4 linked regions of the Homo sapiens genome follow. The gene in region 3 interacts genetically with the main gene of each other region. Each region holds a gene or a part of one and is shown on either strand. Other genes may lie near its edges.

Region 1 (3,500 bases), on a different chromosome or scaffold from region 3:
ATATTTTTAAAAAAGTTTTTCAAACTTCTCAAGAAAAAAAGAAAAAATATCCCCACCCCATTTATTATTCTATATACCCAGCAAAGAAAAAAGATTACTTCTAACTTTAAACAACCTTAACAAAGAATTAGAAATAGTCAATAAAAGTATGAAAAAAATTCAAATTCACTCGTAATCAAAGAACTATACTTTAAAACAGTTCTACTCCCTAGCTGCTTGGCAAGCATTCAATAGTACTAATTGGTCTGGTGCTGGCACGGGTGTATGCTGCTTTGGGGAGCAGAAATCGCTGTTGTAGGGAAATAGGGAAATTATATTTGAAAGATTTTTTCCTCCAAGTTCCCTCTTCATTAAGCCACTAGATATGTGTTCACTATAACCGAGTATCTGACATAGCATGTATGCAAATTAATAAAAGAAAATCATGCATCAAAAGCCTTTGAAAAGTTCACAATTCTTTGATGCAGCAATTGCATCTCTAAGAACTTATTTTAAGGAGGTAACTAGATACATAAGCGTATTTATCACCTCCATGGTTATTAAACATCCTAACCAAAAACTACTTAATTACTCGGCCATAAAGAAGCGTTTAAATCAATCAGCCACGTGTTGACTAGCGTGTGGCCCCTGAGCATCACGATACCCATCAATACACGGAAAGTCAGCCACAATATATTATACGTGAAAAGAACAGGTGACAGTATCCTATACATAACAGAATTCCATTTTACATTTTAGATATGTTTATATCTATACACATCCACAATTCCTCCCAAAATGTTAATATTGGTTATTTCCGAGGTAGCATAATCAGGCAAATTTAACTAATTTTCTTCTTATTTACTTGTACTAACTTTTCTAAAATCAACACAAATCATTTGTGAAAAAAATAAAGAGAAAGTGGGAAAATACTAATTTCTAATAGGTTGTTTAGCCATACAAAGTTACATATAATACATTTATACTGCTGATTACTTAAAAAAACAGACTTATTGTTCATATTTATGGTTTTGAGATAGAAAGGAATTTTAAAACTTACCAAGTTTAATTCTCTCTTTTTACAGCTGAGGAAACGGAGGCCCAGAGAGGTAAAGAGACTTTCTTAAGATCAAATAGTAAGTTAGAAATGCCAGACCATGACATTTCCAATCAGTTCTTGTAACTTCTATACATATGTTTATATAAACAAAGGGAAGGAAAAGAATGAACAAAAACTAACAAAACCAATATGCCCCACTGGCATCCAAAGAGAGCTTAAATCTAATTTTAACTAATTCCTCAAATTTCAAGCTTAGCTATTTCTAAAGAATGAGACTAGGTAACACTTGGAAGTCTACGAGCTGGTCCCGCCTTCTCGCCTCACAGCCTGCCACGCTCCAGCTCAGGCTGTTCATCTTGGACAAGAGCACAGAGGCGCGTTAAAGTAAGAGCAGGGCCTACTGACTCCTCCAGTGCACATCTGGGCAGCTGGCAGGGCGTGAACTCGGCTCTGCGGCTAGACTTCAAACCTACTCTTAATTTTTGTCATAGAAAGTCACTACTCCCCAACAAAGGTTTGGTGCAATTAAAAAGGGGAAGGTACAAATTAAAGCAATGACAACTAAAACAGCTACTAGTATTAAGGTTGTATTTCCTGACTCCTTATAAGAAAATCTACAAAAATAAGAAAATCAAAGGAAATGAAATGGGAAGAGGAGGAAATGAGAGTCTCTCTGGGGGACACAGGTATGCAGATGAATGTTAAGAGACTGGAAAGATCTAAGCAATATCCTTTCCTACAAAAATTCGAAATAGCTCACAAACACATTAGAATTAGCTCTGTCACCAGACAGCCTTTGGCTGAACTTACAATAGAAGCCTCCCAAATTCCAATGGTCAAAAATTTAGAAGTTTGTTTTTTAAATTAGATTTTCCCACTTCAAGTAGAAGCAGAATGTATATTTATGATGCTTCCCTGAGATATTAGCAAATATTTCTGATCCATTTAAAAAAGGAAGGATAAGCTACACTGGGCTTTTACTAAAGCTAAACCTGCCTTGGGGTCCGGCAGTGGAGGCCACTTCTTTGGCATGCCTCAATGCTGGAAGCCCTCATGAAGGCGTGGGAAGGGTACCTAACTGAAAGGCCTGGTTCCTTCTCTTCACCTGAATGACCACACAGCCCACAGTGGGGGCAGACAAGTTCAAGAGGCCTACCTGCAAACTGCAGTTCACTCGTGCTCCCACAGAACACAGCACACTGGGTCCCACACCCCTGACCTCCTGCTGTCCCTTTAGACCACTATGCCGTCAGAACTCTGAAACTACAGAGACTCCTAGTTAGACCACTTTTTTCAACATCGTTTTGAACAGCACTAACCTCAGAATCCATTCCTTGCATTTCATTCTTCTCAAGCTGAAACTGCACAAAGTCATCAATGACATGGAAGAGCTCAGGAGAGACAGCTTTGAAGTACTTGTGGTAGTCGTACTTTACAGCCAGCGATGCAAAGATGGTGTTGTTGACCAGGGCAGACCGCAGGTCTGTCAGGACCCCCGGGGAGTGCTGCCGCGGGTCTTCATAAAGGTGCTTGGTTATGAGGTAGTCCAAAATCGCATCTCCCAGGAATTCTAAGCGCTGGTAACAATCTGAGGGGATCCGAAGTGGAACCGTAAGCTTGTGCAGAAGCATTTACACTATCCCCACATAGCAACTGATCCCCAAATCCGAAGAAGATTTGTATTTACAATCATTTTCATACATATATTCTTCAAAAAGGATATCTGACATATCATACTAAAAAGCCTCTGGAAACTAAATTTTAATGACAAATTAAGTACATTTCTTATATAAACTGGGGTCATAAAATCTTCAAGTGGTCAAAAGACTAACGCTTGTTAAGAAGGAAAAACAAAACCTCACAGGTGCTATCATGATCACTGAATGCTTTTCTCTGGCACTGTGCTGTCTGGGCAGGTGCTGGGGCCTTCCTCTCGAGTCTCCCTCACACATCATCACTTAAGTGAAACCAGGGCCGCACACACCTCTCCATGTGGCTACACTGTGCTGCCATCGCTAAAGTCTCATTCACACTCTGGAATCTGTGCATAAGTGATACCATTCCTCACTATTCCTGGGCTATTTTTGTTACACAGGATGACAGGAAAAGAAGACCCTCTTCTTAACTTGAGCTATTATAGAAATGAATTTACCACAAACCAAGAGATTGAGAAAGAAGAGTTGTGAAAGGGAGCAAAGGCAGGTAAACTGGTTGTCAAAATGTGAAAATGATCAATGTTAAATCAACACCTCTATTTTCTCACAGTGATTAAAATAATATATCCAGCTGAGGAAACTGAGGCAGGGACCGATGGTGACTTGTCCCAGAATAAGCAAGGAATTAAGAAGCAGGGACTGCTAGGCGAGAACCCAGGTCTCGGAACTTCCAGCAGAATGTAGTCGAAAGCCACGTATCATTTTTCCTCCATAACGAAAATTAGGCTTTAGTTTCATCAGTCTTT
Region 2 (3,500 bases), on a different chromosome or scaffold from region 3:
CATGCTACAACATGGATGAATGTGGGAACATTATAAAGTGAAAGAAGCCAGGCACAAAAAGCCACGTATTTTATGACTGCATTTAGATGATATGTCCAGAATAGGCAAATTCGTACAGACATAAAGTAGATCAGTGGTTGCCAGGGGCTGGGGGAAAGGAGTAATAGGGAGTGACTGCTAATGGGTGTCGGTTTCCTTTTGGGGTGATCAAGATGTTCTGGAATTATTAATATTTGCAAAACCTTGCCAATATATGAAAAAGCACTGAATTGTACACTTGAGGTAATTTTATGGTGTGTGATTTATACCTCAGTTTTTTTAAAGGAGGGGGCATACAATAACCCCAGGAATGCAGAGAAGTAAGAGATTTGTTCTGACTGAGGGAAGCAAGGAAGGGCTCCCTCAATTTTTTTGAAGGAGGGAGCATACAATAAGAATCCCAGGAATGCAGAGAAGTAAGATTTGTTCTGACTGAGGGAAGCAGGGAAGGGCTCCATATTTGAGTTGAGTGATGACCAGGAGACCTCAAGCATAAAAAAGGGAAAAGAGCAATTCTACAATATAACCTTATATGCAAAAGCAACATAACTGTGTGTGTATGTATGAGAAGATAAGGCCAAGTGAGTTACTCATCATGCTCGGGAAACCTGTTCCTACATTACCTGAGGTAAATACTATGAATTCTCATAAAGCAGCCCAATTTATATGCATGGAGAAAGCATCCAAAAACACTGGGCCAAAACCCACTGCAAAAACATTAACAATCGTCATTTGGAACCGTCCATTCCCACTTTTCTCCAAAGCTATCTATTTAACCAAACACCTTCTGAAATTTGCAGCATAAACAAAATATATCAATGTCAAATTTTAAGTTTTGGGAAAGACCCCTGGGTCAACTTGATGCAAGCTGATTCTTCTATCATCTTAATAGTTTGTGGTCATTATTAGGAAACCAAATAGCCAGGAAAGAATGGGGACAAGAGGGAGAAACAAGCAAATGTGTGAAGGCAGGATCACTACAAACTAGCTTTGAAGGAATACAATTACGTTCAAGAGATTATTTTCTTAACCCATAGCCCTTGAAAATGATTTGCAAATCAGCACAGAGATTTAGCTATTTAGCTATTGATACAGAATAGCCCATTGCTGAATTCAAGGTTCAATTAATCTCCACCCCAAATCACATTCAGAATTCCCTCACTTCTGTCCCCATGAAGCTCAATACTTAATAACCATTTGCTCACTTTTGCCTTATACCCCATTAAGACTCTTAACCAGGGGTCTGGCAAATACCCTCAGCAAAGGGCCAGAGGGTAAGTATTTTTAGGCTTTGCAAGCTACATAGCTCTCCGTCACATCCTCCTTTTTTAAACAACACTTTAAAAATGTAAAAATCATTCTTACCTCCTGGGCCATACAGCAGGCCACAATCTGATGACCCTTCTTCTAAACAAAACTGGGCACATTAGGAATACTGATCAAAGACATGCAGCTACCTACACACTACATTTCTCAGATAGGTGAAAAATCGTCTTAGGTTATTTGCACATAGGATCAGGAGTAAGATGAAGACAGATAATCAAAAATATCAACCCTATCCTTACCTAATGATTGGAAGAAAACAGAGTAACGGCATTCATAGAGTGAAAACAGATACTGCCGAACTGCTGGAAGACTGTGCAACACTTCAAGAATCTCTGCTCCTTTAATGACCTAGGTATTTTAAAAAACATATATACAAAAAAAATGTACATTTTAATGATTTGTGTATTTAAACAAAAAAAACAAGTCTTTAAATTTGAGTATTAAAGTTTGGTCATTACCTTTTCCCTGAGATCTGGTCTTTCTAAGGCAATCATACTGACATAGACAGTATAAGTCACAAATGTTTTATAATCCATGAGTTCATAGGATGTAAATGTTGAAACAGTGTCAAGGAAGAGTTCAGCTGCCTGTTTGAAATCACGAATAGCCACACAATAAAGACCCTGATACACTTTTAGGCGGTTTCTCCTGTCCCAGTCTCCTCCTTCTTCTATTAAGCTATGAAATAAAAACAGTAAGATCATAGTCTGGAAACAGACAAGGCCACGTTTTAAAAACTTGTCTGTTATTTGAAATGAGAAAACAACTTTTAACAACTTGAACCGAAAGGAGATATTTAAATTATTTTACTAAATAAGTACATCAATTATTTGACCAAACTTACTAGCTGTAAACAAAACAGGCAGTTTCTTATATCAGCTTCTCATTTGTAGCATCATAATTTAGAGAAAATATAATCCCACCCTTAGAAAGTACCTTTTGGCCTTTTCTGTGTTTCGTGTGATGAGATCATTATCCATATAAAATAAGCCAATCCTAAGGAGATAGAATACAATATCCAATCGGTGACCCAGGGCCACAGTTTTGTCATATGTCTTGCGAAAGGCTGTCAGAGCTCCCTCCTGTCAAGAAAGCCAAGGCAATAGGTGAGAAAAGGCTACAAGTTTCCAAAAAAAGCTATCAGCTGTCTGGGATTTTCTTCAAAGGTTGAGGGAAGAGGTAGGAGTAGAAGTACAACAAGATGGCCATTAACTGTTAATTGTTGAAGCTGGGTGATAAGTACACAAGGGTTTATTATTCTACTTTCTCTACCTGTATAAAGTTTAAAAAATACATAAGAAATGCCCAAGCATATACTTAGATTCAGGAAAACAATTTAAGAAAAATATATTCACAATTGTTAAGTATTTTTCTCTGTTCTATATATTCAATGTTTTCTCTCATAATCACAATACACTACATCAAAATAACATCATCTGAAGGGTTTTGGAAATTGTATCTTAGTCGCTATTAGAATATGACTAAATTTGTAAATATATAATTTTCTCTCAAAGCACTGTGGAATGTTTCCTTTGCTTTGAATATGAATAAAATAATTTGTTCACACTTGGTAGTTTTCAGTATGTGTCTGCCTGGTTTATGTAATTATTAGTTATATTTCACAAATTTATAAGGGACTGGGAATACAGCAATGGATACACCTAGCACTAAGATCTTGGTTTTTAAATACTATCCCCCACTAAAAGGAACCAGGGATCCTAGGAGAAATAGATAATTCTACGTTTATTAGAGTGAAAATAACAGGTGAACCTGTGACATTTTGTTTTATCAGAAAATAAGACTAATGAGATATGTCAAAAGGACAAAGTGTCTTGACGGAGCCTCTGCTAACAAATTTGCAACAAACTTAGCACCATAAAGAATAAGACTCTCATCAGTGGTAACAGTGAATAATAAAAGCCCACTAAGTCCATTAAGTATTTAGTAATACTAAATAAAATAAAATATAAAAAACGAGAGTAAATAGGAGGGGAAAAGTTGTTCGTTTTGGAAGAGTATTTAATAAATACAGAGGAAATATAATATTAGAACATTTTACAACTTCCTGATACTGATTCAAGCATGTCCTTGTTGAAATTCTTCAAAACCTGAATCAAAAGTTTCAAGTTTCTCAT
Region 3 (5,284 bases):
AGTAGAGACAGGGTTTCTCCATGTCAGTCAGGCTGGTCTCGAACTCCTGACCTCAGGCGATCCACCCACCTCCCAAAGTGCTGGGATTATAGGCGTGAGCCACCACACCCAGCCAGCAAATTTTTCTTTTTTTTTTTTTTTTTTTCTTTGAGACAGAGTCTCGCTCTGTTATCCAGGCTGGAGTGCAGTGGCATGATCTTGGCTTACCGCAACTTCCGCCTCCCAGGTTCAAGCAATTCTCTGCCTCAGCCTCCCAAGTAGCTGGGATTACAGAAGCCCGCCACCACGCCCAGCTAATTTTTGTATTTTTAGTAGAGATGGGGTTTCACCATCTTGGCCAGGCTGGTCTTGAACTCCTGACCTCGTGATTTACCCGCCTCAGCCTCCCAAAGTGCTAGGATTACAGGGGTGACCCCCGCACCCGGCCGCAAATTTTTCTTATAAGGCCATATAGTAATCCGTTAGGCTTTGTAGGTCTTGTTTCCTGTTCACCTACTCTGCAATATTAACTAGAAATCTGCCACAGACATGTAAATGAACAGCAGTGTTCCAATAAAATTTATTTACAAAAATAGGCTGCCAGACCCAGCTGTAGAAAAATCTCAAAAAATTACATATTAATGGTTCTGGGATGCATACTGGCTTAACTATCACGTAACAATTAAGTTGGCTTTTTGTTTGTTTTGAGATGGCATCTTGCTCTGTCTACCAGGCTGGAGTGGAGTGGCACAATCTCGGCTCACTGCAGCCTCCGCCTCCCAGGTTCAAGCAATTCTCCCGCCTCAGCCTCCTGAGTAGCTGGGATTATAGGCACCTGCCACCACACCTGGCTAATTTTTATATTTTTATTTATTTAGTTAGTTTGTTTGTTTTGAGACAGAATCTCACTCTATCACCCAGGCTAAAGAACAGTGGCGCAATCTTGGCTCACCGCAACCTCCGATTCCCAGGTTCAAGTGATTCTCCTGCCTCAGCCTCTCAAGTAGCTAGAATGACAGACGGATACCACCATGCTCGGTTAATTTTCGTATTTTTATAGAGATGACATCTCAACATGTTGGCCAGGCTGGTCTCGAACTCCTGACCTCAAGTAATCTGCCCGCCTTGGCCTCCCAAAGTGCTGGATTACAGGCATGCACTGCCACGCCCAGCCTAACATTTAAGTTGTGAAATCTGCTCAGGCAGACACAGTGGCTCACACCTGCAGTACCAGCTACTCAGGAGGTCTAGGTGGAAGGATAACCTGAACCTCGGAGGTCAACACTTCAGTGAGCCGTCATCACACCACTGCACTCCAGCCTGGGTAACAGAGTGAGACTCTTGTCTCAAAATAAAAAAATAAAAGAATAAAAAGATAAAAATGTCACATCTATGAAGAATTGGCACACAGGATAGGTAAGAAAAATATCTGTATTTTATTATGGCTTTCTCCTGCCTTAAAGTACCATAATTCCAGGCCTGAAGTTACCTACTTTACTTCCCATTACTCTCATAGTAATATCATTAAAAAAAAAAAAAAAAAAAAAAAAACAAAGCTGGCTGTGTGCAGTGGCTCACGCCTGTAATCCCAGAACTTTGGGAGGCCAAGGCAGGCAGATCACCTGAGGTCAGGAGTTCGAGACCAGCCTGGCCAACATGGTGAAACCCCGTCTCTACTAAAAATACAAAAATGAGTCAGGTGTGGTAGCACATGCCTGTAATCCTAGCTACTCAGGAGGGTGAGGCAGGAGAATCACTTGAACCCGGGAGGCAGAGGTTGCAGTGAGCCAAGATTGTACCACTGTACAATCTGGGCATCAGAGCAAGACTCCATCTCAAAAAAAAAAAACAAAGCTTAGATTACTTTGAATCCGAAAGCAGAGAAGGGTGAAATCAAAGCAATAACTAAATTGCTCCTTTATTTGAAATTCATGCTAATTCTGAAAACAACATTTTTTTTTTTTTTTGAGACAGAGTCTCACTCTGTTGCCCAGGCTGGAGTACAGTGGCATGATCTCGGCTCACTGCAAGCTCCACCTCCCGGGATCATGCCATTCTCCTGCCTCAGCCTCCCTAGTAGCTGGGACTACAGGCGCCCGCCACCATGCCGGGCTAATTTTTTGTATTTTTAATAGAGACGGGGTTTCACTGTGTTAGCCAGGATGGTCTCAATCTCCTGACCTCGTGATCCACCCGCCTTCACCTCCCAAAGTGCTGGGATTACAGGCGTGAGCCACCAGGCCCGGCCTTTTTTTTTTTTTTTTTTTTTTTTTTTTTTTTTTTTTTTTACAACAAAAACAAAAACACGGAGTCTTGCTCTGTCGTCAGGCTGGAGTGCAATGGCGCAATCTTGGCTCACTGCAACCTCCACCTCCCAGGTTCAAGTTATTCTTCTGCATCAGCCTCCCGAGTAGCTGGTACTACATGTGCCCGCCATCGCGCCTGACTAATTTTTGTATTTTTAGTAGAGATGGGGGTTCACCATGTTAGCCAGAATGGTCTCAATCTTCTGACCTCGTGATCCGCCTGCCTCGGCCTCCCAAAGTGTGGGGATTACAGGCGTGAGCCACCGCGCCCTACTCAACAACATTCTTTATACATCTCTAAATGGGACTCAGATGAAAAAGGGCCAAGGCTACCTTTGAACAACTTTGGCAATGAAGTCATCTGTGCAGATCAGTGCATCCGACAGCCCTTTGTAGAGTTTACAGCTCACATGTGTTGAGTCCTGCACATCCATTACCACTGAAAGACAAAATACATAGGAAATTGTTTTAGATTTAGCTTCTGACTTTTCCAAAAAAGACATAGGGACCAAACCGCTCCATGAGAGGTGTTAGCCACCCACACAACTCACCACACACCAGGGAGTCATTCACAGGGTGCTGAAAAGATACGCTGAAACGAGACTCTGAGAGAGGACACACTTCAAATTGGAGAAGCCCAGGAGAATCTAAAAGGCAAAGAGAAAGATCATAAAACAACCAAATATAAGACTTCACACAGGCTGGGCACGGTGGCTCACGCCTGTAATCCCAGCAGTTTGGGAGGCCAAGGCAGGTGGATTACCTGAGGTCAGGAGTTCAAGACCAGCCTGGCCAACATGGCGAAACCCCAACTCCACTAAAAAATAAAAAAAAGAGGCCGGATGCAGTGGCTCAGGCCTGTAATCCCAGAACTTTGAGAGGCTGAGGTGGGCTCATCACCTGAGGTCAGGAGTTCGAGACAAGCCTGACCAACATGGACAAACCCCATCTCTACTAAAAATACAAAATACAAAATTAGTCGGGCGTGGTGGCACATGCCTGTAATCCCAGCTACTCGGGAGGCTGAGGCAGGAGAATCACTTGAACCTAGGAGGCGGAGGTTGTAGTGAGCTGAGATCGTGCCACTGCACTCCAGCCTGGGCAAGAGTAAGACTCCATCTCAAAAAAAAAAAAAAAAAAAAAAAAAATTAGCCGGGTGTGGTGGCGCACACCTGTAATCCTAGCTACTCAGAGGGCTGAGACAGGAGAATCGTTTCAACCTGGGAGGCAAGGGTTGCAGTGAGCCGAGATCATGTCACTGAACCCCAGCCTGGGAAACAGAGCAACACTCTGTCTCAAAAAAAAAAAAAAAAGACTTCACACAAATAACATTCCTTAAATGTACAGACTGAAATTCTCTCTCCCTCCTTGGAAACTAAATCGCACACTTTTTTCACATACAAAACCTACTATATGTCATCCACAGATGACAGAAGGAATCAGATTCCAAGGAACCTGCCAGTTTGTTATAAATTTCTCCAGAACAAAAGTAGCTAGACTTTCAATTTTCCAAGATGAAGAAACTTAATCCCTAAAATGTAAAAGTGAATTCTGAAAATAAAAGTGGCCGAGTGTCTCATTCTACTTGATAAGCAGATATCCAGAACCACTGCCATAAACTCTGCTTTCTATCAAGTGTTTGCAGCTGTTAGATGTGCAGCCCATAGTTTGGCAAGCAGAGATATAGAGGCTATAATCTAAAATAATGTATTTATTCCACATATATCTAGCCATCATCATATGTTCTTATGCCAGATGTGCTAGCAGCCTAGACACAAGGATCATATACTTTCTTTGTAAAAAGCATGCCTCTCTATAGGATTAGCTCCATAACTGCCTTATGAAAACTCATTTTTAAATGCCCTAAAGCTATCTGGAGACTTCTTAAGGCATTTTAACACATGAAACAGAAGTGCCACAACTTTGAACATATATGCTCTATGTTATTACTCCAACTACTAAAAATTTCTCATTTCTAAAGCAATTTTTATTTCCATGAGAAGAATCTCCTGGCCCAGCACAGTGGCTCATGCCTGTAATCCCAACACTTTGGGACACTGAGGTGGGAGGAATGCCTGAGGCCAGGAGCTCAAGACTATCCTATACAACATGGCAAGACACCATCTCTACAAAAAAAATGTTGCTGTATAAATATGTACACTGAAATAAAAAGTATAATATAAATTTCTTTAAAATTTGACTAGATGTAGAGGTGCATGCCTATAGTCCAGCGACTTGAGGAGCCTGAGGGAAGAGTATCACTTGAGCCCAGGAGTTTGAGGCCAAAGTGAACTATGACTGTACCACTGCTTTCCAATCTCGATAACAGAGCAAGACCCTGTATCAAGAAAAAAAAGTCCAGGCATGGTGGCTCACGCATGTAATCCCAGCACTTTGGGAGGCCGAGGCAGGCAGACCACTGAGGTCACGAGTTCAAAACCAGCCTGGCCAACTCGACGAAACCCCGTCTCTGGTAAAACTACAAAGATTAGCCTGGCATGGTGGTGGATACTTGTAATCCGAGCTACTTGGGAGGCTGAAGCAAGAGAATTGCTTGAACCCAGGAGGCAAAGGTTGCAGTGAGTGAAGATCACACCACTGCACTCCAGCCTGGGTGACCAAGCAAGACTCCGTCTCAAAAAAAAAAACAAAAAGGCCAGGCGTGGTGGCTCATGCCTGTAATCCCAGCACTCTGGGAGGCTCAGGCGGGCAGATCACGAGGTCAGGAGATCGAGACCATCCTGGCCAACACGGTGACACCCCGTTTCTACTAAAAATACAAAAAAATTAGCCGGGCGTGATGGCGGGTGCCTGTAGTCCCAGCTACTCGGGAGGCTGAGGCAGGAGAATGACGTGAACTCAGGAGGCAGAGCTTGCAGTGAGCCGAAATTGCGCCACTGCACTCCAGCCTGGGCGACAGAGCGAGACTCCGTCTCAAAAAACAAACAAAAAATAAATAAATAAAAATAAAAGAGATCTGATTTGCCTTCCCTATTTCT
Region 4 (3,500 bases), on a different chromosome or scaffold from region 3:
AGATGCTAGTTCCCTTATATTTCAAAAGGACATTTTAAATTTTAATTCATGGTTTTAAATTATGAAAACAATGAAATAGAAATTAAAATAGCTTAAACATTACAAGACCTTAGCATATGGACCACTTAAAAGATCTTTGTACTTTGTAACTAGTATCGCAAGAATTGTTACGTTGGTCTGTTGCACTCCTGTTTAAGTGTGCCAATATTTAAAGCATGTGCAAGGTTATTTACTAACCATGAACAATCCATTCCATTGTTTATTAATCTTTATTTTTAGATATTTTTTACATATAAATGTATTCTTTGCTACAGTTGAAACCCAATAAATCCATTAAATAATATCTCTATATTTTATTTTAATTGACAAGTAGCAATTGTCTGTGTGTGTGTATATATATTATATATACTTATTTTTTTATAATGATAACACTTAAAATCTACTCTCTTAGCAATTTTGAAGTATACACTATATCGTTATTAACCATAGTCACCATAATGTCCAGTAGGTCTCTTGAACTTATTCCTCTTGTCAAAGTGAAATTTTGTCCTTTGACCAACATCTCTCCAGAAAGTAACATCTCTACTTTTTAATGTCTTTTTTGTTGTCATTGTCATTGTAGTGTTTAAAACGCTCACATGGGCCAGATGCAGTGGCGCATGTCTGTAATCCCAGTGCTTTGGGAGGCCAAGGCGGGAGGCTCATTTAAGCCCATTGTTAGAGACCAGCCAGGACATCCTGGGGAGACCCTGTCTTTACAAAAAATTAAAAAGTTAGCCGGGCCTGCTGGCATACACCTATAGTCCCAGCTACTCTGGAGGCTGAGGTGGGAACACCACTGGAGCCCCAGAGGTTGAAGATGTAGTGAGCCATGATTACGCCACTGCACTCCAAGCCTGGGCAACAGAGCAAGACCCTGTCTCAAAAAAAAAAAAAAATAATGATAATAAATAAAATAAAGGGCTTATATGTGGGACTAGTCAAGAATGATGTGGCCTTTTTGTTTTTCTTAGGTTATAGCATATATCTTGGAAAGAAATGCCTGCTTATTACCAGCCTATTTTGCAGTCACTGAGATCAGGAAACTGTATCCTGAAGGCAAACTTCCACACTGGGTAAATTTTATATTTCCTGAATTTTTAATAAAAATTTTCGGCTGGGCTTCGTGGCTCACAGCACTTTGGGAGGCAAAGGTGGGAAGATGATTTGAGGACAAGAGTTCAAGACCCAACCTGGGTAACATAACAAGACTCTGTCTCTGCAAAACATTAAAAAACACACGCACACATATTAGCCAGGCATAGTAGCACATGCCTATAGCCCCAGCTACTCAGGAGCTGAGGTGGGAGGATTACTTGAAACCAGGAGTTTGAGGCTGCAGTGAGCTGTGATCACACCACTGTACTCTAGCTTCGGCAAAAGGACGAGACCCTGTCTCACACACAAAAAAGGGTATTTTATAAAAAACAGTTATATTAATCTTATTTTTGTGTGCTTATTTTTTTAATGATGACTTTTATCCTTAGATAATATGTATATTTTTAATCATGATGTATTTCTTTCATTTCCATTTCCATTGAGAATTTATATGCCATGTAATAAAATATGATCAGCTTCATCAAATAGCTAAGGATATGGTGGTGTGACTTGGTTTAATTAAGGGACAGATGAACTGGCGAGTGATTTTTTAGAAGGAAGCAAAAGGGAGCTAACCTTTAAACAGTTATCATGTGCAATCTTTACATATATTATCTCATTTTATATAAATGTTCATATATTTCAGGGGCAGTCTCAATTTTCCTTTTGTACGTATTTATTTGACTTCCCTCTTTCTTTCTCTCTTTAGTTACTTGGAAACCTAGTATCAGACTTTGTGGATACCTTCAGGCCCACAGCAAGGATAAACTCCATTTGTGGTAGGATTATAATTTTAAATATGCCAAATAGTACCTGATTTTTAGTAATCTAATTATTGAACAAAGCTGAGGGATGTTCTCTTAATATGTGCCTTGGTGGCTTGTCATTTTGGTGACTCTCTAAGAGCTTAATATAATGCCTTTCCCTTGTTTTCACTTACTCTGTGTGCCAAGTACAGGGAGGAAAAAGAAACTCTCTGGAATGGGTTTAAGCTTCATTTAAAACCATTCTAGAAGTGGGTTTCTTGGTGATTAGAAAGACATTTTAATACAGCTAGTAAAGCACCATGGAATTTCTAGGCAGCTGGAAGTCTGAACAGACCTGTCCCTCTGTGGCTACAGAACGTGAAAGTGTCAGGCTCACTCAGCCCATTCTAATTCCCACTTTTGCTTTTCCTTTCGCATTTTCCCATGTTTTGTTAGAGTCTCTGAACTTTCTTTTAAAAATAACCATGTGATTTGGCAATTTTTGCAGTGCCCACATATCCTCTTTAATTATTTCTAGAAATCATGGTGACCTCAACTGTGTGGAAATATAGACCATTGTTTATTCAGTGATCAAATATTGAGTACTTCCTATAAGCCAGGTGCTATTCTAGATACTGAAAATACAAATACAATCTAAATAGACACTAGACAGATAATTATCAGGTTTCTAGCTTTTGTAACTGAGTGGATATTGATATCATGTAGTGAATTATGGAAGCAAAGTAGGTTGGAGAAGGATGATGAATTTGAGACATGTTAAGCTTGAGGTGCTTGTAGGACATCCAAGTGACGATATTTGTTAGGCAGTTGGATGTATGAGCTGATAGTCATATGTGACATCTAAGGCCTCTAGGAATATCGTGCATAAAGTTTAATCATGTTGACACTGGACTAGTGGTCTTAAACTTTTTCCTGTAAAGGGCCATGTAGTAAATATTTTAAGCTTCGTAGGCTACAGAATCTGTTGCAGCTACTCAGCTCTGCCATTGGACTGCAAAAGCAGTGGTGTTCCAATAAAACTTTACAAAAACAGGTGCCAGGCTGGATTTGGCCCATGGATTATAGTTGGCTGATCTCTGCCCTAGACATTTAGACAAAATGCGATATTTTCAACTTTGGAAAGCCTGTGCAAATTGATCTTCAACTATCTGAACTAAAAATAAAATTCCCAACCTTCAGTCTCATTGAAACATTTTTATAAGCCATTTTTAAACCAAACCAATGCCTATTTCAGCATATATGTTCATTAAATATTTGTGAAGTGAATGAAGTACTGCTGTGTTCACATTTACTTAAAAACATTTTTGTAATACATACAGGTCGCTGTAGTCTTCTGCCAGTTGTAAATAATTCGGGTGCCATTTGTAATTCATGGAAACTGGATCCTGCTACTCTTCGTTTTCCTTTGAAAGGCCTTTTGCCATATGATAAGGTATGTTGCTAAATATAATGGCACTTTTAGTCCATCTGACAGTCTTCAACCTAGATTATAAGATATGTGATGCTAAATTGTTGCTTCATAATCTGAAGAAGTAAATATTTAATGAAAGATAGTTTATAGTTTATCATGTTATTCTAGTATCTAAATATACCCTG

What was found.
Region 1: changes in MED1 (region 3) and DICER1 together harm fitness more than expected from each alone (negative genetic interaction), as found in Homo sapiens cells (one large-scale study listed by BioGRID).
Region 2: changes in MED1 (region 3) and PSMD6 together harm fitness less than expected from each alone (positive genetic interaction), as found in Homo sapiens cells (one large-scale study listed by BioGRID).
Region 4: changes in MED1 (region 3) and MED23 together harm fitness more than expected from each alone (negative genetic interaction), as found in Homo sapiens cells (one large-scale study listed by BioGRID).

The regions. Positions count from the first base shown.
Region 1 is NC_000014.9:95,091,530-95,095,029, forward strand, and holds part of DICER1 (endoribonuclease Dicer), read right to left. Parts: intron 2,628-3,500; coding exon 2,359-2,627; intron 1,166-2,358; exon of another isoform or gene 1,040-1,165; intron 1-1,039. UniProt on the Homo sapiens protein: Double-stranded RNA (dsRNA) endoribonuclease playing a central role in short dsRNA-mediated post-transcriptional gene silencing.
Region 2 is NC_000003.12:64,016,995-64,020,494, forward strand, and holds part of PSMD6 (26S proteasome non-ATPase regulatory subunit 6), read right to left. Parts: intron 2,448-3,500; coding exon 2,302-2,447; intron 2,044-2,301; coding exon 1,824-2,043; intron 1,714-1,823; coding exon 1,605-1,713; intron 1-1,604. UniProt on the Homo sapiens protein: Component of the 26S proteasome, a multiprotein complex involved in the ATP-dependent degradation of ubiquitinated proteins.
Region 3 is NC_000017.11:39,412,408-39,417,691, forward strand, and holds part of MED1 (mediator of RNA polymerase II transcription subunit 1), read right to left. Parts: intron 2,933-5,284; coding exon 2,837-2,932; intron 2,725-2,836; coding exon 2,619-2,724; intron 1-2,618. UniProt on the Homo sapiens protein: Component of the Mediator complex, a coactivator involved in the regulated transcription of nearly all RNA polymerase II-dependent genes.
Region 4 is NC_000006.12:131,618,243-131,621,742, reverse strand, and holds part of MED23 (mediator of RNA polymerase II transcription subunit 23), read left to right. Parts: intron 1-1,013; coding exon 1,014-1,115; intron 1,116-1,846; coding exon 1,847-1,916; intron 1,917-3,223; coding exon 3,224-3,336; intron 3,337-3,500. UniProt on the Homo sapiens protein: Required for transcriptional activation subsequent to the assembly of the pre-initiation complex. Component of the Mediator complex, a coactivator involved in the regulated transcription of nearly all RNA polymerase II-dependent genes.